Linked DNA regions of Homo sapiens. The protein of the gene in region 1 interacts with the protein of each later gene in a pairwise test. Each region holds a gene or a part of one and is shown on either strand. Other genes may lie near its edges.

Region 1 (16,369 bases):
CAATGCTAGTGTTTATGCCCATATATTTCATAGTATCCTGTGGGTGTGCCTGAATTTAAGGTTTCAGTTTTCCTCATCTGCCACATTTCAGGGTAACTGAACCCAGGACATAGCTCTTGGGGACTTCTTGAGGCCTTAACCACCGTCTTAAACTAATATAAAGTTGTAGCATGTCCAAGGGTAAGCAGAGGATTTGTTAACACATGACAGAGAGAAATTATTTAAGTTAACTTACAGCAATATTTATTTTTCTTGTACAATTATTTGAATTTAACACATGTACAGATTCATACGACCATCACTACAATCAGAATATAGAATGGTTCCATCATCCCCAAACCTCCCTTGTGTTATCCCTTTATAGTTATACGCTTCCCCTCCCACTTAGCCCCAGACACTACTGATCCATTCTCTGTAACTATACTTTTATCATTTCAAGAATGTCATAAAATGGAATAATATAGTGTGCAACCTTTTGAGACTCACTTCCACTCAGCATAATGCCTTTGATATTCATCCAAATTATTAGTATATCAATTGTTCATTCATTTTTATTGCTGAATGGTATTCCATTGTATGAACATACAACAGTTTTTTATTCATTCACCCACTGAAGGACATTTGGGTTGTTTTCAGTTTTTGGCTATTATAAATAAAGCTGCTAATAACATCCATGTAAAAAGCTGGGCGCAGTGACTCACACCTGTAATCCCAGCACTTTGGGAAGCCGAGGCGGGTGGATCACTTGAGGTCGGGAGTTCAAGATCAGCCTGGCCAACATGGTGAAACCCTGTCTCTACTAAAAATACAAAAATTAGCTGGGCATGGTAGCACATGCCTATAATTCCAGGTACTTGGGAGGCTGAGGCATAAGAATTGCTTGAACCTGGGAGGCGGAAGGTGCAGTGAGCCAAGATTGTGCCACTGCACTCCAGCCTGGGTGACAGAGCGAGACTCTGTCTCAAAACAACAACAAAAAAATCCATGTGCAGGTTTTTGGATGAACACATTTTCACTTCCCTTGGATATATACATATATACCTAGGAGTGAGATTGCTTGTTCTTATGGATAAATGCATGTTAACTTTATAAGAAACTGCCAAACTCTCTTCCAGTGTGGTTTACCATTTTGCATTCCCACCAGCAATGTAAGAGAGTTCCAGGGGCTCTTCGTTCTCATCTCCAATTGGTGTTGTCAGTATTTTTTATTTAGTCATTCTATTTCTAATATTCTAAGTCAATCTAATAGGTGGCAATCATGGTATTAATTTTTATTTCCCTAATGGCTAATGGTGTTAAACATCTCTTCATGTAATGATTTCTCATCCACATACCGTCTTTTGTAAAGTGTTAGTTTAAACCTTCTGCCCATTTTTCAACTGGGTTGTTTTCTTATTAAGTTTGGAGAATTTCTTATGTACTATGGATATAAGTCCTTTGTTGAATATGTTTTGTAAATATTTTCTCCCACTCTGTAGCTTGTCTTTTCATTACTTTAAAAGTGTCTTTTGCAGAGCAAAAACTTTTAATTTTGATGCAGTCCAATTATCAATTTTTTCATATAAGGATTGTGCTTTTGGTGTCATATCTAGGCACTCTTTGCTTAATCCAAGATCAGGAAGGTGTTCTTATGTTTTTTTGTAACTGTTTCACAGTTTTGTATGTTACATTTAAATCTATAATCTACATAAAATTCATTTTTGTACAAGGTATAAGATTTAGCTCAAGGTTCATTCTTTTTGTGTATGGATGCCCAATAATTCCAAACAATTCATTGAAAAGAACGTACCTTGTCCATTTAATTGCTTTTGCACTTTTGTGAAAAATCAATTTTGTATGTAGACCTATTTCTGGACTCTAATTTTGTCCCATTGATGTATATATCTATTCCTTCACCAATGCTACCCTGCCTTAATTATACTTTATTACTTTACATAGTAGCATTACAGTACATCTTAAATTGGATAGTGTGAGGCCTCCAATTTTATTCTTCTTTTTCAAAATTGTTTTGGCTAGTCTGTTACTTTGACTTTCCTATTAATTTTATATTTCACATGGCTATATTCACCAAACATTTTGCTGGGATTTTTATGGAAATTTTATTAAATCTGTATATCAATTTGGAGAGATTTGACATCTTTGCTTAGTCTTTCAATCCATGAACATGGCATGTCTCTTCATTTATTCAGGTCTTCTTTGATTTCTTTCATCAACATTTTATAGATTTTAGCATATAGATCCTGGACATGTTTTGTTAAAAATTTATACCTAAATATTTTTCTTTTATGCTATTGTGAATGATACATTTTAAAGATTTTTTGGCCAGGTGCAGTGGCTTACACCTATAAACCCAGCACTTTGGGAGGCCGAGGCAGGCGGATCAGGTGAGGTCAGGAGTTCGAGATCAGCTTGGCCAGCACAGCAAAACCTTGTCTCTACTAAAAATACAAAAATTAGCCAGGTGTGGTGGTGGGTGCCTGTAATCCCAGCTTGGGAGGCTGAGGCAGGAGAATCACTTGAACCCTGGAGGCGGAGGTTGCAGTGAACCGAGATCGCACCACTGCACTGCAGCCTAGGTGACAGAGCCAGACTCCACCAAAAAAAAAAAAAAATCTCCAGTTGCACATAGCCTGTATATAGAAATATGATTGGTTTTTGTGTGCTGACCTTGCACCTTGAGACCTTGCTAAACTCGCTTATTTGGTTCTAGGATTTTGTAGATTTCATGGGATTTTTCTAAGTAGATGATCATATTATCTATGAATAGGAGAATTTTTCTAATATCCTTTGAGAATTTCTCTTTTTTCCTCCCTTTTCTTTTTGTTCCCTCTGTTTTTAGTTCCTCTGTTTCCCCAGCATTCCATTAAAATTTACATATTGTGATTTTTGCTATATACGTATGCCTTTTATTTCGTTTTTCTGTCTTAGTGCACTGACTTGGAGTTCCAATACAATGTTGACTAAGAGTGGTGATAGTGGACTTCCTTGCCTTTTCCCGACCTTGGGGGGAAAGAATTCAGTCTTTTAAGAATAATGCTAGATATTCTGTGCGGTTTTTTTTTTTGGGGGGGGCGGGTATCTGCTCTTTATCAGGTCAAAGAAGTTCCCTTTTATTCCTATTTTGCTGAAAGCTATCATGAATGGATGTTGAATTTTGTCAGTGCTTTTTTCCGCATCAGTGAATATGATCAGGCAGCTTTTCTTCTTTAGACAGTAAATATGGTGGATTGCATTGAGTGATTTTCTCATGTTGAACAAGCCTTGTAATCCTAGGATAAATACCACTTGGTCATGGTGTACACTTCTTTTTATACATTGTTAGATTCAATTTACTAATATTTTGTTAAGAATTTTTATGTCTAAGTTCATGAGAGATATTGGTATGTAGCTTTCTTTTCTTCAACTGTCTGACTCTCTAGAAGAGACTGTACAGTATTGGTGTTATTTCTTCACACGGAAATCTATTTTTGTTGGATGTATTATTTTTGGTTAACAGTTCTTTCAGCACATTAAAAATGCTGTGCATGTCTTTATGACCTTCTTGGTTTCTGATGAGAAATCCGTAGTCATCTGAATTGTTGTTACCCTGTATGTAATATTTCATTTTTATCTTTCTGCTTTAAACATATTTTTTTGTTTTTCTTTTCAGCAGTTTGAATATAATGTGTCTGTGCTTTGATTCTTTGGGCTTATCCTGCTTGGGTTTTGCTGAGGTTCTTCAATCTGCAGGCTTGTGTCTTTTGCTTTATCTGGAATGTTTTCAGTTATTATATTTTCACATCTTTTTTTCTGTACCACACTGTTTCTCTTCTCCTTCTGTAACTCTAAAGACACAAATGTTAGATATTTTATTATCTCCTATAGGTCTTTGTGGCTCTATTTATTTTTCAGTTTTTCCTCTCTGCTATTCAGGTTGGATAATTTCTATTGATCTATTTTCATATTTACTGACTCTTTCATCTCTATTCTGCTATTGCATCCATCCAATTTTAAAATTCCAGCTATTGTATTCTTCACTTATAAAATTTTTTTTTTTTTTTTTGAGATGGAGTGTCACTCTGTCACCCAGGCTGGAGCGCAGTGGTGCGATCTCAGTTCACTGCAAACTCCACCTCCCAGGTTCAAGTTATTCTCCTGCCTCAGCCTCCCAGTAGCTGGGATTACAGGCACATGCCACCATGCCCAGTGAATTTCTGTATTTTTAGTAGAGATGGGGTTTCACCATGTTGGCCAGGCTGGTCTGGAACTCCTGACCTTGTGATCTACCCGCTTTGGCTTCCCAAAGTGCTGGGATTACAGGTGTGAGCCACTGTGCCCAGCCTAAAATTTCAATTTGGTTCTTCTTTTATCTTTTACTCCTGTGCTGAGCCTTTTATCCTTACATTCATTTCAAGATTATTTGTCCTTACTTGTTGGAGCATCATTATAATAGCTGCTTTAAAGTCTTTTTCAGATAATTCCAACATTGGTGTCACCTCAGCAGTGGTGTCTGTTGTTTGCCTTTTCCCACCCAAGTTAAGATTTTCATGGTTCTTCAGGTATTGAATAATTTTGGGTTGTATCCTGGACATTTTGAATATTATGTTATAGGACTTTGTATCTTGTTTTAATACTATGGGGAAATATTCATATTTTTGTTTTAGTTTGTAATAGACATGCTTGGGTTTAGATCACAAGTTCTGACATGCCTTTTGTGGATAGTGGCTCCAAAGTCAATTCAGTTTTCAAAAGTTTGTAATGCTATTCAGATCTGTCCTACATGTGTTTTATCCAGTGGCTAGTCTAGGGCTTGGGTGGTGGTCTGCCTCTTAGTTCAGTTATCACAGTCTTTGGTATGCTGTTTAGGATCAGATCCATGTGCAGGTTGGGGTGAACCTAGGAGTTCATAAAAACTTTATGAGGACCTTTCCCAAGGTCCTCTCCTCTCTACTGTCTCCTTGGTACTTTGTAATGCCTTGGAGTTCCCCTTTTAATCAATTGGCAAGAAATCTAGACTATTTAATTTATTTAAAGACAGGGTCTCGCTCTGTCGCCCAGGCTGGAGTACAGTGGTGTGATCATAGCTCACTGTAGCCTCGAACTCCTGAGCTCAAGTGAGCCTCCCACCTTAGCCTCTTGAGTAGCCAAGACTACAGGCAAGCACTACAGTGCCCAGCTAATTTTATTTTTAAATGTTTCATAGAGACAGGGTCTTGCTACATTGCCCAGGCTGTTCTCCAACTCCTGGCCTCAACAAATCCACTCACCTCAGCCTCCCAAAATGTTGGGATTACAGGGGTGAGCCACTGTGCCTGTCCAGAAATCTGGGTCTTTATTTAATCCTCTCTGTTATGTATTTCCTGAAACTTTGCCCATGTCTTGGGCCAAGCATCAGGACAGAGAGAGTGAAAAAATATATATCATTGAGGTTTTGGCCCCACTGTCTTGGGACCAGAGCTACTTCAAACAGAGAGGAAGGTTCTCCCCTCCCTTAGCATTTTTTGGGTGCTTGAAGGTATTGCTGTCTCCATTGTCACTGTTGACTGAGGTGCCACAGTGGGATTGCTTATTGGCTAAAATGTAAGAGAATGGAGAAAAGAAAAAAAATGGCACATTTCTCCTACTTTCTCTGAATATTAGGAGACCAATTTTCTGCTTTTCCTGGAGCTCTCTCTGTCCATGTTGATGCTCCCTTCCGGGTGTTAAGCTGCCTTGAGTCCAGTCTAGTGGAGACTGGAGGAAAAAAATGGTAAACTCACCGCCAGTTCAGTTTTACTTCAAATTCTGTTGTTTTTCCTCAGTTTATGTGGTACAATTTACTTTCCAGAGTCCTCAAATAGTTGCTGCATGCATTCTGTTCACATTTTATAGCTGTATTCAGTAGCAGGTAATGGGTTTAGTGTGATTATTCTGTGTTAACTGAAATCAGAACTCCTGTATTATATAGGTTAGTTTTCACACATAAATATGTAGAGATAATGGAGTGTTTTCTTTGGTGTGTATTTGTGAATGGTTGGGACTAGTCTTTTCATACTCTACCCAAGGGAACTACTTTACATAATAAATACTCTTCTGGTTATCTATTGCTGTGGAAGAAACCACCCTCAAACTTAGTAGCTTAAAATAACACCAATCATTTTATTATGCTACAGTTGCAGATGTTGGTTAGGTTCAGCGACATGGTTCTTGCTTGGGGCCTCTCATATGTCTACAGTAAGATGGTGGCTGGGAATGAATTGATTTGAAGACTCATTCATTCACATGTGTGGCATTTGGGCTGGGAACACTCAAAAAGTTGGGTCTCCTGTGGCATCTACCTCTATTGCTACATGGTCTCTCTACATGGTTTCTTCAGTATGTCAGCTTCCAGGTAGCTAGATTTCTTTGTCTGTTTGTTTGTTTTTTTGTTTTTGGAGGCAGGGTCTCACTCTGTCACTCAGGCTGGAGTGCAGTGGTGCAATCTTGGCTCACTGCAACCTCTGCCTCCCAGGTTCAAGTGATTCTCGTGCCACCACCTCCCAAGTAGCTGGGATTACAGGCACACACCACCACACCCGGCTAATTTTTGTATTTTTAGTGGAGACAGGGTTTTGCCATGTTGGTCAGGCTGGTCTTGAACTCCTGACCTCAGGTGATCCGCCCGCCTTGGCCTCCCAAAGTGCTGGGATTACAGGCGTGAGCCACCGTGCCCAGCCTAGCTAGAGTGGAAAGTGACAGAATGAAACAGGCAGGAGCTAGATTACCTTTTATGACCTAGCCTCACAAATCACATAATCTCCATTACCACATTATATTCTTTGAGGGAGTCACAAAGGTCCACTGAGGTTCAAGGGGAGGGAACATAGATGCCCCTTCTTGATGGGGGATGGTAAGGTTCTGGGATTGGAAATATGATTGTGGCCATCTTTTTAAAAAATACAATCCGCCACAAATACTAAGAAGTCTGTACTTTTAAGGTAGCTCCTGAGTTGCCCTTTTCTAAAGAGAGAAATTCTGTCCTTGAGTACTGGGCACCCAAAGGGGCATAATATTATGACCAACACAGTGCCCATCCAGGTTTTAAGTATTTGCAATTTTATTGGAAACCTGTGTGGAACTTCAAGGTATACGGATGTTTGCAGGGGCTGAGTGACTGCCTAGAGGAGTTGGGAAAGGGGCTAGCTAAAATGTAGATGAAGAGATTTCCCTGCTTTAAAGAAACCACTAAACAGCTTTGGCAGAGTGCTCACCTACAGGGGAACCAGGAAGGCTGCAGTACTCCAAAGAGTTTTCTTACCTAATGCTACCTCTACCCTATTATTTCATTTGGTTAAGCATCACCTTCTTCAATGAATCCTCTTAAAAATGCAAACTCCCCTGGGAGCGAAAACATGGGCAGTTTTGGTAGAGATTTCAGAGTGGTTCAATAAACACATGAGTACAGTGCTAAGCACTGGGAACTCAGTGATTAATCTGATCTTGTTTCTTCCTTGACCAGAGGAGCAAGGTGGATTGAAGATTCTAGTTTTCCTGAGAATTTGTTCCAAGAGGCTTCATCCTTCAGAGTCCACGCCATAATTTTGTTCAGAGCTGGGTTTGGTCTTAAGAGTCATTAAAAGACTCTCTGAGCTACCAGGTGAGCAACATAAAAGAAAGGGTCATCAGGGTAACCCCCACCCCCCACCACCACCTTAGGACCAGCTACTGCTCATCTACCAGGAATGGCAAGCGTTCAGTTCCTTCTGGTTCAACCCTATTCCCCAAGGGGATTAGTAGCACAGCGCAGACGAAGTCTATTCCCTCAAGTGAGGAAGGAGATACTTCAATGCCCTCCCCCGATTCCAACTCCTTATCAGTCCTCACATTTGAGTCTGATGAGAACAGAGGTTTGAATGAAACCTAGCAGATTCTGGGGCTGGAAGGGCAACCTGAGAGATGAGGAAAGAGAGGTGTAGGGGCTAACGTGGCTTCGGGGCTGCTCGGTTCACTGACAGCCCCCACTTTACTGGGCCCAGGGCGGCTGCACACTGGCCTGAGATTAAACACTTCGCCGTGGCGCCAGAGACGGGACTCGAGACCGCAAGGCTAGTCACTCCAAGCCGATGCTCCCGCTAGGCGCCGGCGACCTCTGGCGTCCCCTTTCGGAAGTGCGGCGGCGGCTGCCCATGAACTGGCCCCACGACCCCAGACTGCCTGGGCAGGTGCGCCAGGACGGGGTGAGAAGCGCAGAGAGGCAAGCAGCCGGCGGCCGGCCCGCAGACCCGAGGGCAACACCCGGCCCCGCCTGGGTGGCTCGGTTGGCCCGCGGGGCGGTGCGGCGTGGCGCGGCCGGGGGACGAACAGGTGCGCGGGCGGGGGGCGGTGCTTGGGGATCCTGCGCACTGCGCGCGCCCCTCCCCCGCGCGGCCCCGGGCGCAGCCCCGGCCCGGCGCGAGTAGGAGGAGGAGCTGCAGCGGCCACGGCCACTCCGGCAGGTCCGCGGTGCTGCCAGAACCCGCCGACGGCGCGGGCTGCTGGTCCCCGCTCGGAGGAGGCGCGGGGGGCCCCGGGACCATGGAGCCTGGTGACGCGGCGCGCCCTGGCTCGGGTCGGGCTACCGGGGCGCCGCCGCCGCGGCTGCTGCTGCTGCCGCTGCTGCTGGGTTGGGGGCTGCGAGTCGCGGCCGCGGCCTCGGCCTCCTCCTCTGGGGCGGCGGCGGAGGACAGCAGCGCCATGGAGGAGCTCGCTACTGAGAAGGAGGCGGAGGAGAGCCACCGGCAAGACAGCGTGAGCCTGCTCACCTTCATCCTGCTGCTCACGCTCACCATCCTCACCATCTGGCTCTTCAAGCACCGCCGGGTGCGCTTTCTGCACGAGACCGGGCTGGCCATGATCTATGGTGAGCACCCCTGTTACACCCCCCGCCCTCCACACCCCTCGGCCGCCGCGCTCCTCCTGGCGCCGCGCGGTGCTCCCCCTTCACTTGCCAACGTGTTCCGTTTCTTTTACGTTTCCCGCTGCGACGGTGTTGGTTCCCAAGGTCAACTGTCTGCATTTTCTGGCTCTCTGCTACCGTTAAAAACAATTCCACCCCTATTCCACGTTTCTGCATTGGGAACCCAGGAAAATGAAAGGGACAGAGGTGGTCCGGTTCCGTCTGCCCCGTTCGGTCTCTGTTGCAAACCTCTTACCCACCACCTCCCGCTCCAGTTGAGCTCGATAGGGTGTGTGTGCCTGCGTGGTGGCTGGAGGTGGGTGGCTTCCCAGGTGACTGCATCACCTCAGGGGACAGGCCACAGTAGGGAGTGGGGACGAAGTCTGAAAGTGTCTTTGCTTGGGTATGGGTTAGTGGGGCCTCTTGGACGCCACATCCATGGTCAGCCTGGGTGGGTACCCACTCCTGAGGTCCACATTCCCAGGTCTCTTAATGATAAAGTCAGAGCATGAAGTGTGGTGAAAGGTGAGCAGTGGTCCAGGACCCAGAGTGGGTGGCACCACCATGTCAGGCCTGGACGAGGAGACAGGCACGCCTCCTGCTCTTATGTCCCGAGTGGAAAGTTATACCCAGTTACTTGCTTTCTCAAACGAAGAGGAGCTTTTGTATTCCTAAGACGGTAACAGGGAGTGAGTTTGAGATACATTTCCGAATGTATGAAGGGGAAAAGTCGTGGTTTTAATTCCGGAGTCAGCCATCTTTTGTTGTTAGGGGTGGGCTGATGCTACCATCCTTTTCTAGATTTAATGGTACACAGTGTGTTACATGCACAGTGGTCAGTACAAATCTCCCTTTATTACATGGATGTCAGCCATAATCTGAGTCATCCCTCTTCCTCTTCTGTGCCCCCTGCCTCCCCCCTCGCCCTGCCCATGACTCCAAAGTGGAGTCAGGTATTCTCTTTTTGAATGTAATTCAGTGGTGTTAAAGCCCCTGAATTGGCATCCTCACACGAAATAGACGAGCCACTTCATGATTGTTCCCAACGGGGAAAATTTTATTTTATCACATATACTGAGGGATTTCTTTATTCAGTTTCCATCCAGGTGCCCTGATAGAGAATGGAAAGCAGAAACCTTAACCTTTAATGTGAAAATTACCCTTGGTTCTGGGCCTTGCTTCTCATGTTTCTTGATTAGTTGTTGACAGCCGGGGCTCATGGCCACCAGGCCCTCGCAGCCAAACCGTGTAAGGGGCAAGCGCTGTTAAGAGCCCTCCAGTTTTGATGAAGTAGTGACCTACACAGATCTTGAAACAGGACCAGGTCTAAAACCGAGTTTGGTGATTGCGAATTATAGGTCTCAACACAGACTTTGGCCTCCATCCCTGACCGTTGTTGAGCTCTGTGGTTTGTGTCAGTTGGTGATAAATGACTGATGCCAGGCCTGCAGGTAAGCTGGGAGGTTTCCTGAGAAGACAGACAGGGGGGAATTGAAGCACGTGGTCATTGCAGGTGATTGACTCCAAGCCATGATGCAAATGAAAATTGCCTTTATATAGATAACCGTGAAAATATTTTTATTTAATAGGCCCTAGACCCAGTTTCTTAAAGGACAATGTGAAATAGGAGGTAGATTTGTCAGATTCGTAAACACATGCTCAAGGGATGGAAAATAAATGGGGATTTGAAAATATATTTTCTGGAGAGTACTCCGTGTTCTGAGGAGTTCAATCACCTTTATCTTAAGGCTTAAAGACAACAGTGGAATTTTCCTTTGCTGATACGTACTTTTAAAACTCACCTCCATCTTTCAGCCATTTGGTTGTGCTACAGTGTACTGTTTTATTTTGTGAACAATCAAGTTACAAATCTAGTGTAACTGATGGCTGTTCAGAAAAGGCAATATCATCTCAGCATTCCTGTGTAATTTTGTTCTATATCTTTGAGTATTAGTGTTTCTTTAAATGTATAAAGAAATTTAGTTTGTCAATATGTGATGTCTCAGGTTATGCCAAATATTAATATTTTAAGGACTGTCTGTAATTGTGAGAAAACATTTCTTCTTTCTCTCAGGTATGTTTGGTCTTCTACTGCAAGGTCCCCCTAATCTGAATTCTAATGTCATGTGATTAGCTAATTATTCATAGTATACTGAAGACTATTGGGATGGGGATTTTAAACTGATCTTAAAATTCAGTTTGCAAATCTTTTAAAAAATTGTCTGCATTTAAGATGTACAACATGATGTTTTGATAAACACAATGAAATGATTACTACTGTCAAGCAAATCTTTGAACACAAGTAAATCCAGTAAAGATTTTTCAAGACTTCTCTTTTTTAATAGTAAAAAATAAAATTTGATTTCTCTATATCAATAGAGGAAGTGAGTAATTGTCCTCTTGGCTCTGAATAAGGAACGACAAAAAGACCTAAGGAAACATTTTTAAAGTATCCACTGTGTGCTGGGAACCCAACTTAATTTCTGGAGGCAAACAATTTAACTTTTAAATGTTTATGAATGAAAGAGTTCAACTGTGAATTTCAAAACTCTTTATTTTGAGAAAAAGTTTTAAAATGTAATTTCTGCCACCTTTTTGTGTTTAAGTGACACTTTAATCTGAGAAGAACAGCGTTTACATTTAAGATAAATTTATATATATATAAATTTATATATTTGTTGGTATAGTCGTAAAATATCTCTGGAAGGACATGCAATAGATGAGTAACATTGGTTTCCTTGGGGGAGAGGAACTAGATGGCTGTGAAATAGGAGTGGGAGGGAGAGGTCACCATATAACCTTGTATGCTTCTTGGTCTTGTAATAGCTTTTTTTTTTTTTTTTTTCCAAGACGGAGTCTCACTCTGTCGCCCAGGCTTGAATGCAGTAGCGCAATCTCGGCTCACTGCAAACTCCACCTCCCGGATTCAAGCAATTCTTCATCTCAGCCTCCTGAGTAGCTGGGATTACAGGCGCCCGCCACCATGCCCGGCTAAATTTTGTATTTTTAGTAGAGATTGGGTTTCACCATCTTGGCCAGGCTGGTCTTGAACTCCTGACCTCCACCCACCTCAGCCTCCCAAAGTGCTGGGATTACAGGTGTGAGCCACCGCACCCGGCTGTAATAGCATTTTAACGTGCTCCTCAAATCACTCAATTTGACGCCTACTTCTCCCTATTTAAATCACATTATGTTATCAATTTTCTTCATGACTTTTCAATTCTTAATTGTGCCCTTGGAGCTTTTCTGAGCCCTGTGTCTGGGATGGAGATAAAATGGGGAAAGGGGAAGAGATTTCTCTCTCTCTCTCCCTCCCTCCCTCCCTCTCTCACCCTCTCTTTCCCACTCGCTCTCTCCCTCTTTTTCCTTCCCTTTATTCCATTATCCTCAGAGAGTAGTCAATGTTACATTAGCAGTGATGTGCACAAATAGACCCCATAATAAGTGCTTGCTTGGATGCAGAGGACCTAAGGAAAATAAAAGACACACTGTGAATGCTTAACGTTTAAACAGAAAGGAACTCCCCCACCCACCAAAGGACACTTATAAGCATTCCTCCCTGACAGGCCAGGGCAGCTACAAGGGAAGGTAGCTACAGACCTAACTCCCCAGGAAGGTTGAAAGCAGCCCCCAGACCCCACCACTGGAGCTGCAAGGCAGCGGGGCCAGGCACTTGCCTGCCACCAGTCTAACCTGTTTTGTCAGGCCAGGGAGCTCCCAGCTGTCTGTCTCTGTTATGTGATTAAGTGCCATCCTAAAGTTACTGGGCCCTACATGTCTTTGCAGCAGAAATAGAAAGTGTTTAGGGCAGGGAAAGTTGGTATAAACAGACTGTGCCAGTTCATTGTGGTTCTCTCTCAGATGTACGGTAGTTCCACTTCCCCCATAATGTTTTTGTGACAACTGATATGGATCCAAAATAATCTGACTCTGCCATGCTAACCCACCACCTGCTTCTCGCTTCCTCCTCCTCCACCACCCCATCACCTTTCCAAAAATATGTTGATCAGCCCCTCTAGGTTCTATGGGTTGTGGGCTCACTGTTGCTGTGGTGGAGCTGGATTGCTAAGCACAGCCTGAGAGTGGGCTCATAGGCAGAGTCTGAAGGGGAAAAAGATGACTCTTTGCGGTAACATGAAATTAACATTTGAACCTGTAAGCAAACATTTTGGAACCATCTCCTTCCTGGTTAATCAGGAGTCCCCCCTTTTAAGAGCCCCTCACTTTGGCCCCAGTTGGGAGCAGCTTCTGTATGGTCTCACTTTGGTACCAGATAACCCTGGGTTCAAATGCTGGCCCTGTTGCTTATAAAACTGTATAGCATTGGATAAACTCTCTGAGCCTTAGCTTCCTCTTTTGGAAAATGGAGATTATGTTACCTCACAGAATTGCTGTGTTATTGAGATATTCTAAAGGGTCAAGTGCAGTGTCTGACACTTAAGCACTTGGTAAATATTAGTTCCCATTCTCATTTTAGGCTTTGTGATTCTTTGGCAGGCTTTACTACTTGAGGTTTGTTCAGTAGTGGACTGTTGTAATTTTAAAATGCATTAGGACACAGTTAGTGGAAGTGAGGAAAATTGTATATTTTGGGGTGAGCTTTTGGTTAATACCTAGAAAAAAATTTACAACACACCTACCCTTTTAAAATTTTATTTATTATTATTATTATTATTATTATTTGAGACAGAGTCTCACTCTGTCGCCCAGGCTGGAGTGCAGTGGTGCGATCTCTGCTCACTGCAAGCTCCGCCTCCTGGGTTCATGCCATTCTCCTGCCTCAGCCTCCAGAGTAGCTGGGACTACAGGCACCCGCCACCATGCCCGGCTAATTCCTTTTTGTATTTTTAGTAGAGACGGGGTTTCACCATGTTAGCCAGGATGGTCTCAGTCTCCTGACCTTGTGATCCGCCCGCCTCAGCCTCCCAAAATGCTGGGATTACAGGCATGAGCCACCGTGCCCGGCCCACACCTACTCTTTTATTCAGCATTTTCAATTCTTGGACTTTCAGAAATCTATCAGAAATACTTGTGCTAGCATGTTGCAATATATAGACAGCAATATTTGTTGCAGTGGACATAAGTTGCAGAACTCATCAGATGAGACTGGTTAAATTGTAGCACATTCCCATTAAGGAATACTATGCAGCGATAAAAAGAGGTGTTTTGAGATGTCCTTTTAAGGCTACTGTCCACACATAATGTTGTGGAAAAAAAGCAAGGCACAGAACATCATGTATAGTATTATTCTATTTGATCTTTCAATAACTATATACTGTATATACACAAACATGATGTATGTAATTTATATATGATATATGTGCTTTTATGGAAGGATATGCAAGCTTTATCCTTTGGGAGCAGGATGAGTTGTTGGGAGAGAGAGAGGGGAGGTGGTACTTTTCCTTTATATTATTCTAAATGGCCTGAACTTTCTTTAATACTGACACATTACTTTTGCAATTTAAACATTATTTAAAAATGAAGCAAATAACTTATGTAGCAAAAAAATGCTTTATAAACAGAAGATTGTACTATGTGGTTACATAGCATTTTCCTTGGATTGTCGAAATGTTCTTTGTAAAGCGGTCTCTGGATATAAAGAATACTTTTACTTATTATTTGAAAGTTATAAATGGAAGTAAAATGTTTGTATCTTAAAAAATAGAAAAATGACATTTACTAAAAGCATTTCTTAGAATATTAAAAAGTTAACCTTTGTGGAACGCTGTAATTAGAAAAATCACAATTTTTCAACCTCTAGTGATAGTTTATTTAGACAAGGGTTTTCAATGAATTCCAGAATCCTAGGTGAAAGGTTATTGGGGAACATGGTACTTGCAAAGTACTATCACCCCACAGGTTACTTGCCTGTTGCAAAGAAAAGAAGGTACCTTTACAGTGAAGAGGTCTGGCAGTCACCATCTTATAAGCAAGTCATCAAATGTATCCTTGCTCATTGTGGGACTATCTAGTATCATGGTATACAGGAAGTGTACAGCTTTACCTATGTAGTATCCTTCCTGTATGTGTTTAATCTGAATCAAATCAAGGACTTAGACACATCTTCCAGTTTCCAGGAAATGCAGAGGATAGAGAAACAAGTTATAAAACACCATGAGAAAACAATCAGATAAATCCAATATATGGGATGATCTGTAAGACAGTTGCCCCAGACTCTTCAAAAAGTCAACGTCAAAGGAAACAAAAAGGCAGGGTGAGTGTTCTAGATTAAGGGAGGTCAAAGAGACTAAATGTAGTACGAGAAACTTGATTGGCTCCTAGTTCATGAAAATGAATTATAAAAGATGTTTTGGGGATAGGTAGGGATATTTGAATGTAGACTGGGTATTAGATGATATTAAAGAATTACTATTATTTTTTGTAGGTGTGATAATTGAGGTTATGCAGGAGAATGTACTCATTCTTTGGAGATGCAAGCTGAAGTATTCAGGGGTAAAGTATATGAATCCTAACATATGCAACTTTCAAAAAGTTCAGTAAAAAAATATACATACCACCTATATAGAGAAAACAAATATTGCAGCCTACTAGCTAACTGTTAAATGTAGGTGCCTAGTGAAAGGGTATGCTTTATATACTCTTCTTTCAACTTTTCTGTATGTTTTGACATTGTCATTAAGATGAAAGATTGGAAAAGAAGTTAATCCCCCTCTTAGCTTGCAACCTATTAACTTCCCTGCCTGGAAGATTGTACAGGTGAGGCTGTACACATCCTGTCTGTTACTCTCATTAAACTCTTTCTAGCACTGATTAACACTGTTTGACATTAGTTTACCTGAGGTGAAGTTAGGCTTACGTGACTTGAGAATCAGTAACTTCTTTCTTCTTTTTTTTTGAGACAGGGTCTCACTGTGTCATGCAGGCTGGAGTACAGTGGTGTAATCCTAGCTCACTGTAGCCTGGACTTCCTGGGCTCAAGTGATCCTCCCACCTCAGCCTCCTGAGTAGCTGGGACTACAGGTGCTCACCACTACGCCTGGCTAATTTTTTGGTATTTTTTGTAGAGACAGGGTTTCGCCATGTTGCCCAGGCTGATTTCGAACTCCTGCGCTCAAGCCATCCACCTGCCTCGGCTTCCTAAAATGCTGAGATTACAGGCATGAGCTGCTGCACCTGGCCAGTAACTTCTTTTTCATTTTACTTTTTGTTTGATTCTTAAGTTCATGTATTTTTTAAATTGCCTCTGTTTAACATACAAGAGAATATGTGTTAGGAGAATTTTCTCTTTTAGTTAAAGCATGCTACCTGGCTTTTAATCAATATGGGTATTTATATTAGAGTAATACTAGATGTTAAAACAAACCAACCCCAAATTTCAGTGACTTAACATAGGAGAAATTTGTTTTTCACGCATGTAATGGACCAGTGCAAGGGACTGGCAGGTGGCTGTCTCTACGTTGTGATTCAGGGACCAGATGCCTTCCATCTTGTGGCTTCCCCATCCCATATGGCCTTGGAATCCTCCTCCTCCAG
Region 2 (15,190 bases), on another chromosome or scaffold:
CCCACGGGGACATGTGTTGTGCGAAACCAAAGTCTGCAGGCAAGAGGAGAGGCAGCAGGGCTTGAATTCCAGCTGCTTCAGCTCCTGACTTGTAAAGCCTCACCCCAGGCTCCTCTCCACCCTCCAGACCCGCCAGGATCAACCCTATTTCCAAGCCTCTGCTCATCATTAGGCTGGAACACCCTCCTATATCTGCCTCTGGGGTATAAAACCTACCCATCCTTCCCAGCTCCCTTGGGCACCTTTTCCTAGGAAGCCCACCTGATCACACCAGCTACCTGCATAAGCCCCCACCCTCTCACTGTCCCCCCAGGCTTAGGTTCTATCACAGTCTCTGGCCTCCAGTGTCAATTATCCAAATCTTATCAAGGGTCACCACCTCCTACTCCCCCACCACACCCCTCCTATGTGGCCACAGATGGAGTCACAGACTTGAGCCCCAATTCTGATGACAGACCAAGTCCTGTCCCTGCCCACAGAGGGATCCCTGATGCTTGTCACACGCTGAACCCTGGCACTGTTCCCAGATTGACCCCTAAACCTGGACACACAGTGAGTCCCAACTCTGGCCACAGACTGAGCCCTAACTCCACCCATTATGCTGCTGGACTTGAGCATGGGTAGCCTGAGAAAGCTTCCACCTTTTGATGACAGGGCCCAACCCCAGACTTCACGGCCTGTCACTCTTTGAGGACTCTATAGAGGGCTCCATAAGAACCAGGGCTGCTGAGTGAGCCCAGGCAGAGGGAGGCCTCTGCACTCTCCAAACCTCATCCCTGCTGTTTCAGACACAGACCTGCCAGTTTTAGGTGGGGCTTCTCCAAGGAGCTCAGTAGAATGTTCTGTGGCTTCAGATCCAGGTGAGAGATATTCCGTTCATGCAGGAATTGCAGGGCGCTAGCTGAGGAGCAGGACCCACGAAGAGAGACAGTTCAGAGCCCATTCCCGCCTGCCTCTCGCCTCCCCGGCTCACATCTGCCTCCTCAAGCCTGCACAACCCCAGTTCCTGCCTGGCTGGTCTAATGTTTTCCATATAAGCACCAAGATCACACCACTTCTAGGAGTTTGCCACCCCACCCGAGTGCCCACCCTCCTTCCCTCTGCCCCTTCACAAGTCTCCCCACCTCTCAGAAGCTTCTCTGGATGCCCCAGCCCTTGAGATCCTGCTCTTTTCCTTGGCACAGCACTTGAGTCCTACCTACAGGACTCTGGAATGTTCTACAAGGTCCTTATATTATGTTCTATGTATGGAAGCCTGAACACCCCACAGAGGGGTTACCCCCTCATCTCTCCCACAGCGTCCTTGAGCAAGGGTTGAGTGTATGAGATAAACAGGACCATAAAATTTCAGGCTGTGCAGGAGGCAGCTGCAATGCGTGCCAAGGCTCTAAGCCTGGGGGAGGGGTGGGATGGTGGGGGGCAGAGAACAAGGGACAGAGTGTCAGGCTGGTGTCACAGGCCTTTACCTAATTGCTGCATGAAGACACGCGCCACCTTCTCAGGCAGAATCCTGCGGGTATGGATGAAGCGAGACAGGTCGCCCCCTGCGCAAAACTCCATGATGAGGTAGATATTGTCACTGTCCCACTGTGTTTAGAGGCAGAGAGGCGGCCTGAAGAGAGTGTCCCTTCTCCAGCTCCCTTTGGCAGCGGCCCCGCCCCAGGCTCACACCTGAAAGTCTTTCAGCTGCACAATGTGGGGATGTCGAATGCCCTTGAGGATCTCAATCTCCGTGAGGAGGTTCTCCACCGATGCCTTGTTCAGACTTTTCTTGGCTACACACTTTATGGCTACCACTTCACGAGTGTCCTTCTGCGAGACAGGAGATTTGGGGACTCTGCCTTGAGGGGGCCAGGACCCTTGTCTGACTGGAAAGGCTCTATCTGGTTCCCTCTGTTCCCCCACCCCGCCCCTCCCCGGGTCTACCTACTGCACACCAGCACCGGGCTTCCCAGCTTTCCCTTGTGAGGCCAGTGAGGAATGCTGATTCTGGAATCCTGGCTTCCCGACACAGCCTCAGCCTGGTCTTCTCCAACCCTCGGCTAGCTGATCCATTTCTTTGCATTCTGGAGTGCTCCCGGCAGAGGCATGTCACTCAGGGTTCTAGAACCGCCCACTCTGCCTCCCAACTGGCTCCAGTCCCAGACTCCTCCCAGCCCACCAGGTAACCTGTTTTGAGCCTGTTCTTCAGCCACTGACCCTGCAGGTGGGTGCAGGTGCGCTCTTTAAGACCTAAGCGTGGCAGTCGGCTCCAACCTCCGCCGAGGGTCAGCTGGGGCGAGGCCGGCCTCCCGCCCCTAACTATTCCCACACTGTCGCTAACCTCTCAGAGTCTCCCCGGCCGGCACCAGCCGAGCTAGCTCGGGCGGGCACGGGGCCATCGGCCGGCACCCACCTTGGCGTAGGCCTTGTACACCGTGGCGTACGTGCCGCTGCCCAGGCGCTCGGTGAGGATGAAGCCGTCCAGGCGCGGGGGACCCCAGCCGGGCCCCGCCATTCCGGCCGCCTGCGCCCGCGCGGGCGCTTCCTCGCTGCGGGCGGCGGTTCCGGCGGGTTGCGGGGCGGGCCGAGCACTGGGTGGCTCCACGCTGCCCCCAGCGCCGCCCGCCGGAAATGCAGCGCGCATCGGGGACGCGGATCCGCCCGGCTCCCGGCGCCCCTCCCCTGTCTCTGGGCCTCGCCGGGTCACGCGCCCCGCCAGTTCCTGCAGGGCCCACGTGGGGATACGGAGGCCCCGCGAGCCTAGAAGTTAACAACGGAGGACGGCCGGCGTGGTCTCCGGGGACTCCTAGCGGGCGCAGAGGCGTCTAGAGATCGCCCACGTGAGGGCGCGGGCGGCGGAGCGGGCGTGTGTGGGGGCGACGGCGTCCGGGAGGCTCCCAGGGCCCCTCCCCAGGACCCGCAGCTCTGAAAGGAGAGCTACTGGCACGAGAAGGCGCCTTTGGAAGAGGCCGCGTTGGCTTCCCAGGCCTCCCAGCTGCTTTTCACTTTTCTGAGGAAGGGCCTTGACCTATTTATTGCATCTTAACTGTCCCCGCTCTCCAATCTTAGCAGCGGCGCCCAGCCCCTAATCCTGTGGGCTGCCCCGTCCTCCCAAGTCCACCAGACATGTGGACCCGTGTTGTCTGAAAATGTTTTTATTTTTACTTAAGCACAAAAATTGAGACGTAACATATACATTTGTACATAGAGGGGAAAAAATACCAGAAAGGAGTTCATAAAACCCCAGCCGCTGCCAGTATCATTCAGTGGCTGGGGCCTGCGGCTGTCTCGGGCCCAGAGCCGGAGGCTAGTTTTGTGGGAAGGCACCCCAGTCCACACACCCACTCGGCAGCCTCGAGGGACAGGGTGCTGGTTTTAAGGGTGGACTCCTACGTGTCCCATCACAGTGACACACCCCCCAGGGTGTGAACCAGACTCCACTGGGTATTAGGGGGCCCTCCGAGAGATGGCTTATCAGTCCCTGCTGAGGGATGCGGTTCTGGACTGGCTGGCCCTGCCCTTCCTGAAAGTCTGGATGCTGCTGATGGGGAGCATGGGCGGGGCAGGTGGCATCTGAGGCAGAGACAAAGGCAGCCGTCCCTCGGTTCGGGGAGGGGGGGGGGTAGTCACAGCAAACAGGGCCAAACCAACCACACCAGGACAGGCAGACCCCACCCTCCTAGAAGACGCTGGACGCTAGGCAGGACAGCTTGGGGTCAGTGTCCTTGGTCCCTTCCAGTCCCCAAATCCCAACCAACGGCATTGTACATTCAGAAAGTCTGAAGAGAGTAAGGCTCAGCAAGGGGAGGGCTCCAGAGGGCTCAAAGTGCCATCCCCTGCAGGAGGGTGCAGGGGGATAAAGGGCTATTAATCCGTTTCTCAGGAACACGAGGCAGGGAAGAGCTTAAGGCAACCAGCCTTCTCTGGATCCGTTTATGAGGCAGAGAAGAGCTTGAGGCAACCAGCCTTCTCTGGAAGCCTGGAGACCACTGGAGTGACCTGGGGAACAGATCTGTCCACCAGAACCTGTGAGAGGCTTATTCCCAGCCCAGGCAGGAAGGACTGGGCTGTGTCTAAGAAGCCAGATTCAGGCCAGGCCTGCAGGGTGGGGGAGTCAAGGCCCAGGACCCTGGCAGAAAGCTCCAGCTGGGATGGGCCCAGGTCAGCCTGTGATCCCAACTGTGTGGGGGTGTCTGTGTGTGCACAGGACGAAGAGAACTTCAGTCCCACTGCTTCCAGAGACAAAAGAATCCTACCAAACCATCACCAGAGAAGGAAAGAGAGCTTTGTTTTTTTTTGTACATAGAGGGGGAAAAAATTCCCTGTCCCTCCCGTTCCAGGGAGAGCTGGTCGCTGAGGGAGGAGGAAGAGCCACGGCAAGAACCCTGCCAGGTCTGTGCTGGGCACAACCACCACCACATAAGGCACCCACGGAAAGTGCAGCTCAGAAGGCAGGCGAGAGAAAGGCTGAGGGGGAGAGAAGAGAGGAGGACTAATTCCCCTGGAAGGCTCCTTGGGCAGCAGATGAAGCAGCTCTGTGGAAGGTTCTGCTGCTGAAGATGCCCTGGGAAAACTCCTCCTGGGCCTGCTGGAAGCTGGCCCCTGTCCGTCGGTAGAGGGAGTGCACCTGGCGAAGAGGGGTGGGGTGAGAGAAGCCTGTCCTTTGGGCCCACCAGGAAGCCAGCCATCCAGGTTATACTCCCAAAGGGGTCACCAGAAGCCTGGCACTGCCTGACCCCCCACCCAGATCCCTGGAGAAAGGTACTGGACCTTTGGGGGCCTAGGATGCCCAACTGCAGTGGTGAAAAACATCTCGTGGCAAGGGCAGGAAACGGTTGCCTGCCTCCTCCCATTTGCTGTCAGCCCTGCCCACACCACTCACCCGCTGCAGGAGGAAGACTGAGAGCACGGCACAGAGGGTGAAGAAGCCAGCCACCACCATCATGATGACTGATATGGCCAGGGAATGATTATCCAGTGTAGACAGGGCTGCAATCCAACCGCTATAAAGGGAAGAAGAGGCCAGAGGGAGCAAAGTGGGAGTGGGCTCCAAAAGTCAGCATAAGGGGCTCTTCTCCAAGTGGCTGCTGTGTCCTGACCATCACCTTGGCATCTCCCCACAGCACAGGGAGCCCTGTGAGCCAGAAGCCCTTGGCCTGTGAGGCCAGACCTCCGTGAAGGCTGACAGGCCCACACTACCCCATTCACAAGGGGAATCTTCTGGTTATGTGAGGTCTGAAAGGGAGGATGTGGTTGCTGCCTTCACAGAGTCAGAAGTAGCACCGGGCTGGGTGCTATGGCTCTCACCTGTAATCCCAGCACTTTGGGAGGCTGAGGCAGGAGGATCGCTTGAGCCCAAGAGTTCAAGACCAACCTGGGCAACAGAGGGAGGCCCTGTCTCCATAAAAAATAAAAAAAGGCCAGGTTCGTGCCTGTAATCCCAGCACTTTGGGAGGCCAAGGAAGGCAGATCACTTGAGGTCAGGAGTTTGAGACCAGCCTGGCCAACATGGAGAAACCTTGCTCTACTAAAAATACAAAAATTAGCTGCGCGTGGTTGCACACGCCTGCAATCCCAGCTACTCGGGAGACTGAGGCAGGAGAATCACTTGAACCTGGAAGGTGCAGGCTGCAGTGAGCCGAGATCATGCCATTGTACTCCAGCCTAGGTGACAGGGCGAGACTCCAACTCAAAAAAAAAAAAAATTAGCTGGCTGTGGTCATACATGCCTATGCTCCCAGCTACTTGGGATGCTGAGGTAGGAGGATCACTTGAGCCCGTGAGGTTCAAGGCTGCAGTGAGCTGTGATCACGCCACGGCACTCCAGCCTGAGCAACAGAGTGAGACCCTGTCTCCAAAAAAAAAAAAAAAAGAAAAGAAAAAAGAAAAAGGGCTGGGCACAGTGGCTCAAGCCCGTAATCCCAACACTTTGGGAGGCCAAGATGGGCGGATCACGAGGTCAGCAGATCGAGACCATCCTGGCTAACACAGTGAAACCCCATCTCTACTAAAAATACAAAAAATGAGCCAGGCATGGTGGCAGGCACCTACATAGTCCCAGTTACTCGGGAGGCTGAGGCAGGAGAATGGCGTGAACCTGGGAGGCGGAGCTTGCAGTGAGCAGAGATCGCGGCACTGCACTCCAGTCTGGGCAACAGAGACTCCATCTCAAAAAATAATTAATTAAAAAGGTAGCACTGGGCCGGGCCTTTTTCTGCTGCTTTGGGGGTGGGGAGTATGGAAAGCGTGGCTGCTCACTCCTGAGGACCCACCTTCTGTGAAGGAGGATCACTGGCCAACTTGCTGTCACCTGTCTGAGCCCCATGTCCTCATCTGTAAAAGGGATATCCTCATATTTCTTGACATCAAAACTTACTACAAAGCTACAGTCACTAAAATAGTGTAGGACTGGCATAAACATAGACATATAGATCAATAGATCAATGGAATAGAACTGAGATTCCAGAAATAAACCCATACACCTATTGTCAGTTAATTTTTTTTTTTTTTTTTTTTTTTGAGATTGAGTCTTGCTCTGTAGCCCAGGCTGGAGAACAGTGGTGTGATCCCGGCTCACTGCAACCTCCACCTCCCGGGTTCAAGTGATTCTTCTGCCTCAGCCTCCCAAGTAGCTGGGATTATAGGCACCTACCAATGCGCCTGGCCAATTTTTGTACTCTCTAGAAACAAGGTTTTGCCATGTTGGCCAGGCTGGTCTCAAACTCCTTCCTGACCTCAGGTGATCCACCCGCCTTGGCCTCCCAAAGTGCTGGGATTACAGGCATGAGCCACCGCACCCAGCCAACTCAAGCCTTCTGATTCCCAGTACAGGTGCAAACGGCAGTCATGAATCACAGCTTTTCTACCAGGGTCTTACTTAGGTAAGGAGTAATGAAATTGGGTCACTGGTCAAAAGGGACCAGATTAACAACAGCAGGGCAAGAAGCATGAGGGGTGGTGGGAGGGCAGCGTGCACTTGTTTGGAGGGCAAGGGGAGGCAACCTTTCTCTCCCCACTGCTCTGGACTTGCCAGCTCTGCCAGAGGGAGGGGACCAAAATAGCACCGCCCTTCCAGGCTCAGGCTGTCAGCCAAGTGCCAGTCTGACCTTTCTGCAATGCTCCCTGTGCACTGGGGCAGAAAGGAAAACATCAGCCATCAGCTTTTCTTTTGAGATTAATTTTGAGCTGAGGACTGAGGTACCCTGGAAACTCAAACCAGCCGTATGCTCAAAGAGGGCAGCCAGAAGAAGCCTGTCCAGGGGAGGTGAGGGAACCGTCTCCTTAAGTTACAAGGCATCTGGAAAAAGTTGCAGCTCAGAGTCTGCAAAGGCCTGGGCATCCATCAGCTTTCAGGAGGGTGTGGCAGGAGAAAAGGAAGAGGCTGCAATCCAGTGCAGGACACTGTCATGGTAGCCTAAAGAGTCAAGCCAAGTTCACCCACAATACCCTGGAAAGTGGAGAGCAAGGGAAGATAGTGTCTTTTTTTTTTTTTTTTGATACAGGATCTCACTCTGTCACCCAGGCTGGTGTCCAGTGGTGCAATCATGGCTCACTGCAGCCTCAACCTCCTGGGCTCAAGTGATCCTCCTGCTTCAGCCTCCCAAGTACCTGGGACTATAGGTGCATGCCACTGCAACAGGCTAATTTTTTTAATTTTTGGTAGAGACAAGGTCTTCCTGTGTTTCCTAGGCTGTCTCGAACTCCTGGGCTTGAGCAATCTGCCTGCCTCGGCCTCCCAAAGTACTGGGATTCCAGGCATGAGCCACTGCACCTGACCAATAGTGAGTGTCTTTTGATGCCTTTAGTATCAAGGAGAAAAAAAAAGTGAGTGGCTACTGATGAAGAACTGGAGAGAAGGCCCAAAGCAGATCCGAGCTGGCCCACTCACCCACTCCCCGCCATGGGAAAAGCAGGGCACTGGCGGGGCTCTGTGGGAGCTAGAAAACAGGGCAAGAGAGGCTGAGTCCCATATCCAAAGCCTAATTCCCTCTGTGATGCCCAGGTCTCACCTGTCCCCCAGGCCAGGGATGCCAACCAACTGGATGATGTAGATCCCTATTTGACAAAAAAATACAAAGAAGAACACAAAGAAGCTGAAAGAGTTGTCGGACCTGTGGAGAGAGAGGGAAATAAGTCACAAGAGGGCTTGGGCTGTGTTCCTCAGCATCCTTACTTGGTGTGACATCCCTCCTCACTAGGAGCCAGGAGGCAGCATGGGCAAGAGACAGAGCTCCAGGGGCCCAGCCATACCACCCGTAAGGACACGCACACACCCCCCACCATAATCAAGAAGAGCTTGCCTTTCACTGCCTTCCAATTTAAGGGGTCAGTGCTTGACCCCTTCCTCAAAGAGCTGATAAAGTTGCTCCCCCAAAGGACAATATAAAGAGCCTAACACTCCTGCAGTGAGCCAAGATCACGCCACTGCACTCCAGCCTGGGTGACAGAGTAAGACTCTGTCTCAGAAAAATAAGTAAATAAAAAACAAAGAACCTAACACTCCATCTCCTGGAGTACTTGCGTTTCATAACAGGCAAGAAAAACTAAGCCAATCTCTTAATAATAAGTAAATCTCTATATAATAAGTAAAATCTCTAATAATAAGTAAAACTAAGTAAATCTCTTAATAATAAAACTGTATGAGGCCAAGAATTTGAGACCAGCCTAGCCAACATGGCAAAACCCTGTCTCTACTAAAAACACAAAAATTAGCTGGGCGTGGTGGTGTGCGCCTGTAATCCCAGCTACTTGGGAGGCTGAGACAGGAGACTCACTTGAACCTGGGAGGCGGAGGTTGCAGTGAGCCGAGACTGCGCCATTGCACTCCAGCCTGGGTAACAGACTGAGATTCTGTCTCAAAAAAACAAAACAGGCTGGGCACGGTGGTTCACACTCGTAATCCCAGCACTTTGGGAGGCCGAGACAGGTGGATCACTTGAGGTCACAAGTTCAAGACCAGCCTGGCCAACATGGGGAAACCCCATCGCTACTAAAAATACAAAAATTAGCCAGGTGTGATTGTGTGTGCCTGTAAGCCCAGCTACTCCGGAGGCTGAGGCAGGAGAATCATTTGAACCCAGGAGGAGGAGGTTGCAGTGAGCCGAGATCGCATCATTGCACTCCAGCCTGGGTGACAGAGCGAGACTCCCTCTCAAAACAAAAACAATAGAACTTGAGGATACGTGGTAACAAAGAACAATGAGAAAAAAACAAAACCTGTACATCTGACTGGAAGAAAAAAATATTTGGGAAACAGGGGACACCAGACAAAACTCTCTCACGAGCTGAGGACTTCCATCTCTGTGTCCTTGAGGGCTAGATCACAGTGAGGGTTCAGGGCCTCCAGTGGTACAGGGATGGTTCAGCCACTACCCTAATCCCTCTTCCCAGGGCCTGCTGGGCTCCCAGCCCTGAAAGCATAAACCCTGAGGTACAATTCCAGAACCCCTGGGGGTCTGTAAGGTGTATCCAGCTATGTTCCCAGTATCTAGCTTAGGTGTTGGCAGTCTTTATTGGGAAGCATCAATAGTCATGGAGAAAGAGCCCTGGAGAGCACTCATCTGATACTACCAGAGAAGCACACCTTAGAGCCTCAGAAGGGAGTTCCCAAAGAGCGTCCCCTCCCTCTTCCCAGTAACGGCATCAGCCAGACTGGGAGCAGTGGGATGGGAGGTCCCTTCTCTAGGTCTCCTGTGCCTGGTCCAAGGACAGGGCCCAGAGCAGACCTCAGGTACAGAAACTGAGGAACGGGGCCCCCAATCTCTGCTCTGGGTGGGAACAGAGGAACAGAATGTAGGGAAAGTGGATTTCCCTACATTCTATTCTGCTCTAAGACTCAGATGGGGTCCCAGGGCCTATAGCCCTTAGCCTGCTACCTGGGATGCCAGCCATAAAGTCTCACCCCTTGCCCCGGCCTCACTCACCTAAAGGCCTTATAGATGGGTCGGTACCAACAAAGGAAGGCACAGGGAGTGAAGATCAGAAACCACAGGATGGAGAGGCCAAAGTCCACTCCCTTGGAGCTGTTGCCCGAGAACCAGGCCAGGCAGGCAAGCAGGTTCAGAAACAGAGTCACTGAATGCACTGGGGAAGGGGACAGGACAGAGTTATGACTTGTGCCACAGTGGCTGAGGGGCTCCAATGTGGCAGCCACTCCCTAGGAGAGGTGAGGTTCATGCTGCGAAGGCAGCTGCTGAAACAGAGGAGCCCGCTCTGTACCTAGGCAGGGATAGTTCCCATATCCTGGTTTTCTGGGACCTCAAAACCAGGGATCAAACTACGTTCCTGAGAGGTGATGGGACAGCCCGGGTATCTGAGGGGTGTGGAGGGAGGATGCAGACCCAGGGCTGGTCCTTGGGGAAGGAAGTCTTTCTCTTAGCAATGCTTTTCCCTGGCCCTGGATGGCCCCTGATGGAGCTGCAGGGGGAGTCTCCTTCCTCACCCCTCAGAGTTCACAGGCCTGTGGGCAGGGAAGGCCTTCACCTAAGGAGGGCCTTTTAGTGCAGTGAGCTCTGAAGGAACTTGGAAGCCTCTAGTTAGTCCCACCCTCCCTGATCGGTGGTCTGGACTGCCCCTTTCAAGGAGGTTTCCAGACAGGGGGCAGCCTGTGGGCAGAGGCATCTCCCCAACCCAGCCCAGGCACTGAGGAAGGCTGGAGTCTGCTGAAAGCCTGTATACCAGGGAGGAGCAGCCAGGACCAAGATGGGGCTCTCAAGTCACACCCAATTCGCCCTTGCGCTTGGAAGGCAGGAGTGGGACTCACACATCCACAGATAGTAGAGCATCTTGCATATCCGCTGGTAGTCGGCAGGGATCTCTGTGGAGAAATCCTGATAGAAGCAGGGCTTCACAGGGCACCACGAGGGCAGAGGGGGCCAGTTGTTCTGTCTCACTGGGTAGGGCAAAAAGAGTGACGAGGTAAGGGCCCAGCCTCAGAAGGGGCATCAAGGTGCATGCACGCCAGCATAGTGTATGGGCCAAACCAGGGTTCCCAGAGGGGCTCCAGCAAGCGGGGCTTGGAGTCTGCATGGAGCATGGAGTGGGACAGAACAGGATAATGGAACCCAAAGAGATACCAACAAGCTCACATGGAGATAAAAGACCCCAAATGCACTGGGAAATACAGACAGCTAAATGGCCTAAGTGATTATTTTTATTAACAAGCAGCCCATAAGTGTGAGAACTCAGTTCATCATCATTAGCAAGGAATTGTGGGACCAAAGCCCCTATGCTATCAAAGAATCAAGGAATTTGAGAGCTAGGAAGGAGTGCAGAAGTAATCTACAGCCATTACAACTACACTGCAGGTCTCCTGACTTGCAACTTACTGCTCTTCCCAGGACCAGCATCCTGTGATGAGAAGAGCCCCACAAAACTCTAAGGCAGCTCAGGGTGAATGCTGGGAGGCCCTCCGCACAGGTTTCAGGACACTCTTCTATGCCAGGCAGGGCAGCCCCAGGCCCCAGCAGCCTCCCTTACCATGCAAGTTGGCTACAGTGTTCTGCAGCTCCCGCTCCTTGCGTTCCAGCTCGGCAGCTTTCCTGTCCAGTTCTTCCTGCTGCCGGAGCAGGCCTGCCTGGGCTGCAGACACCACGGCCTGGAGAGAACAGGGGAGGTACAGGGACAGCCAGACACAACAAACAGAAACAGTGTCAGCCTGGGTAGGCAGGCAGAGAGGCCTTGCCCCAGGCAGGGACAGCCATCAAGGAGTCCCAGAAGCAGTCCCCGCCCCACAGAGTGTCTTAGGTACCAGAGACCACCTTAGAGAGGCCAACCTGTCTTCCACTGCCCCCACACCTTCCTGACCCCTTGGCCATGACTAAGCTGTCCTCTCCCCTCATCCCTAAGCTTGAGTTGGGAAAACTACCCCCATTGGCTTCTCCACCTCTTCCCCATACTGGGTCAAGGCAGCGCTCAGTGATTGTGACCTTTGGGAAAAAGACCTCACAAGAAACTAAACTATAATAAGAAACCCACAGACCCAAGCCTCATTTGAAGAGCCTGGTGGATGTGTGAGAAGGAAAACAGTGCAAGCCTGCTAACAGTGAGTGGAAAGGGGAGACACGTGAAGGCAGATGGCGTGTGCCTGAGCCTCAGGATCTGTACAAGCACCCTGCCCCATGGCCTGCCCCCAGGAGCTGCCTCCTGAGGTCCCCCTAAACTGCAATTGGCTACACCCCAGGACAGCCCCTTAGGTGTGGCCCTGCCCTGCCTGGCTTTAGTGGCATGCAGAGTCCACACTTATCTCCTCTCCAGGCGGGGTAGAGCCTCTGAGTAACAGTAAGGGACTGACTGTATGTGAGGCTGAACAGACCTGGCCCCGGGGCCCTGCACCTGCTGGCAGCTGCTGCCATTTGGGCCAGGTTCCTCCTGAAGGATGAGACTACAGTCCTTTTTAGGGAGAGATCTCAAACTGGTCATTTCACAGGATGACAAACCAGGCACATGTGTACACACACACATGTATACACACACCAACCTCTCCAAAAGCTCTTCAAAGACCTAAGGCTGACGTGGAGAGCCAAGTTTCAGGCACTGGGGGCGGAAGCAGGAGCAGAACTGACCCCGCTGTGCCACGCTGGGGGTCTTGACCTCCTCCAAGTCTGTGACGCCAGCTGAGAAGGACCCAGCTCCCTACAGCCCACCACCCAGCTGCACAGAAAGGCAACTCCGCATGTAAGGCCTGCCTCACCTCCACAGGGCTCTGGGGCCTGGGAGGGGTGTGGGGCAGGCTCCGGGTGCCCTGCCCTTCCTCCTGCTCATCTACATTAGGCCTACCTTCGGAAGCTTTCGCATGTAGCTGTCTCTGAGAATACTTTCTCCTCCTAGGAGCATCTGCCTCTCTGAGAGCTCGCTCACTGCCAGGAATTGGGCAGGCGGGAACTTGCTGGCCTGTCTAAGCAGGAGCTGCAACACACAACTCCACCATGGGTCACGCTCATAGGGGCAGCGAGGGGTGCAGCGGGAGGGCAGTGAGGCGGCGCAGTGGAGCACCAGGCACAAAGCAGGCAAGATTCACAGTATTTGGTGAAGGGACAAAGGAAGACAGGAAGGAAGGTGAGAATTAATGAAGTTAAAAAAAAGAGAGAGATTCTGGGCCCCAAGGAAGAGAGAACAAGCCAAAGGCCCGAGGAGGACCTGGAGGGGTACAACAGGGACAAATGCCCTCTCTGGAGGCACCGAGGAGCCCGGCCTGGTGAGTAGAGCTTATTTCTCAGTGGTGGTGGTGGGTGGGATGGAGGGAGTAAGGATATTAATTGGCAGAGCAGCCCCTCTACTTGTAGGTGACCAGCTCCGAACAAATTAGCAAGAGGGCCCTTAGGGGGCCAAGGCTGAAAGCTCTCTGCTTGCCCCCAGCCTCAGGGCTCAGCTACTGGTCTGGATGATTCCCTCACTGGAGAGAAAAGGCCAGAGTTCTTTGTCAGCACTACCTGGGGGGTCGGCTGGGTTGGTTCCACTGATGGCTGGAGAACCGCTGGCTGTGAGGACCCAGGGAGTTGGGTGACAGGAACTGTTGTCGCTGCATTTGTCTACATGGAACAAATCAAAAGACAGAATTGAGTGGGACTCCATTAGCTGGTGACGAGGGGGCAAACCCACAGCAGGATGAGTGATGTGCCCCTGCCTGTGAGGGGACTCCCTCGGGGCCTGCACTGGGCCTTCCCCTGTGGCTTCCCAGCCAACAAGCCTCAGGTTCAGGCCATCTGATCCCTAACCCGGCACCCCTGGGCTCGCTGGGTCCAGCACACTTGGGCACTGCCCTGACCTCCTTGGGGAGGGGCCCCGGTCACAGATCCCAAGGGGAGAATTTTACAGAGCGTTTGGTGGCTTTGCCATCCTTACCCTGCCTCCCGGGTTCATGTTAGGACTGTCCCTTTGAGGACTGCCGCTTCTCAGAGCTGCTTCTGTCCTTGCCAAGGATCCCTGCCCCGGACACCCCAGCACCACCCTAGAGGGCCATGGGACTTGGAAAGAGGGCCTGCTCACCAACCTCTGAGAAGGGGTTGAATTCCGCCAGGCCGCCCTGCGGGGCGTTGGTCAGCTGGGTCACAGAGGGATCCTGAGAAGGTGAAAAAAAGCCCTTAGACACAGTGGAGAAAATCCGGGCCAGGGGCCGGCAGGCGAGCCGGTGACGCCTGACTGAAGCAGGGCAGCTGATCACCCTCCCGGGACCCTGAGAAGCCTCTCTGGAAGGGTCCTGTGCCTGCCTCTGCCACACCACAGCTGCGGTCCCTTCTCCCTTCCCCCTTCCTGGAAAAGGTTCAGCCCAGAAGAGACCCAGAGCAAGCTTTACCCAGAAGCTTGAGAGTACACACCACACAGGCTCCTGTTGGTGCCCTATACAGATTCAAAATGGTTCATAGTATTTACCTCTAGGGAGTGGGTTTTTTTTTTTTTTTGAGGGGTGGGGTGCTGAGGGGCAAGTGAATGGGGTGGTGAGGGTAGAGACTTACTATTGACTTTATAACCTTTCTGTACTGTTTTACTTATTATTCATTTATTCCTCTTTTTTTATATTTTTTTATTTTTTCGAGACAGAGTCTTGCTCTGTCACCCAGGCTGGAGTGCAGTGGCGCAATCTTGGCTCACTGCAACCTTCGCCTCCTGGGTTGAAGCGATTCTCCTGCCTCAGCCTCCTGAGTAGCTGGGACTACAGGCGGCCGCCACCATACCCGGCTAATTTTTGTATTTTTAGTAGAGACAGGGTTTCACCATGTTGGCCAGGATGGTCTCAATCTCTTGACCTCGTGATCTGCCTGTCTCGGCCTCCCGAAGTGCTGGGATTACAGGCGTGAGCCACCATGCCTGGCCATTCCTCTTATTTTGTAAAAGACAGTCTAAGGTAGCCGGGTGCAGTAGCTCATGCCTGTAATCCCAGCACTTTGGGAGGCTGAGGCGGGTGGATCACCTGAGGTCGGGAGCTCAAGACCAGCCTGACCAACATGGAGAAACCCCGTCTCTACTAAAAATATAAAATTAGCCAGGTGTGGTGGCGCATGCCTGTAATCCCAGCTACTCCGGAGACTGAGGCAGGAGAATCACTTGAACCCGGGAGGCAGAGGTTGCAGTGAGCCCAGATTGTGCCATTGCTCTCCAGCCTGGGCAACAAGAGCAAAACTCCATCTCAAAAAAAAAAAAAAAAAAAAAAGTAGTCTAAGTTTCTAGAACAAAAACATGCTGCTGGCTGCCAGTACTGATTTTATTAAAT

Evidence for each region.
Region 2: the proteins of SLC9A7 (region 1) and SCAMP2 interact in binary tests that used the Homo sapiens proteins (3 or more experiments, as listed by UniProt).

The regions. Positions count from the first base shown.
Region 1 is NC_000023.11:46,751,172-46,767,540, reverse strand, and holds the start of SLC9A7 (sodium/hydrogen exchanger 7), read left to right. Parts: upstream 1-8,422; 5' UTR 8,423-8,511; coding exon 8,512-8,836; intron 8,837-16,369. UniProt on the Homo sapiens protein: Golgi Na(+), K(+)/(H+) antiporter. Mediates the electoneutral influx of Na(+) or K(+) in exchange for H(+). May contribute to the regulation of Golgi apparatus volume and pH.
Region 2 is NC_000015.10:74,840,609-74,855,798, forward strand, and holds the end of SCAMP2 (secretory carrier-associated membrane protein 2), read right to left. Parts: intron 14,042-15,190; coding exon 13,973-14,041; intron 13,512-13,972; coding exon 13,413-13,511; intron 12,889-13,412; coding exon of another isoform or gene 12,760-12,888; intron 11,579-12,759; coding exon 11,461-11,578; intron 10,874-11,460; coding exon 10,745-10,873; intron 10,066-10,744; coding exon 9,906-10,065; intron 8,094-9,905; coding exon 7,992-8,093; intron 4,986-7,991; coding exon 4,865-4,985; intron 4,610-4,864; coding exon 4,475-4,609; 3' UTR 3,122-4,474; downstream 1-3,121. Other genes in the region: serine/threonine-protein kinase ULK3, read right to left, coding at 1-33, 797-901, 1,467-1,587, 1,672-1,812, 1,931-2,065. UniProt on the Homo sapiens protein: Functions in post-Golgi recycling pathways. Acts as a recycling carrier to the cell surface.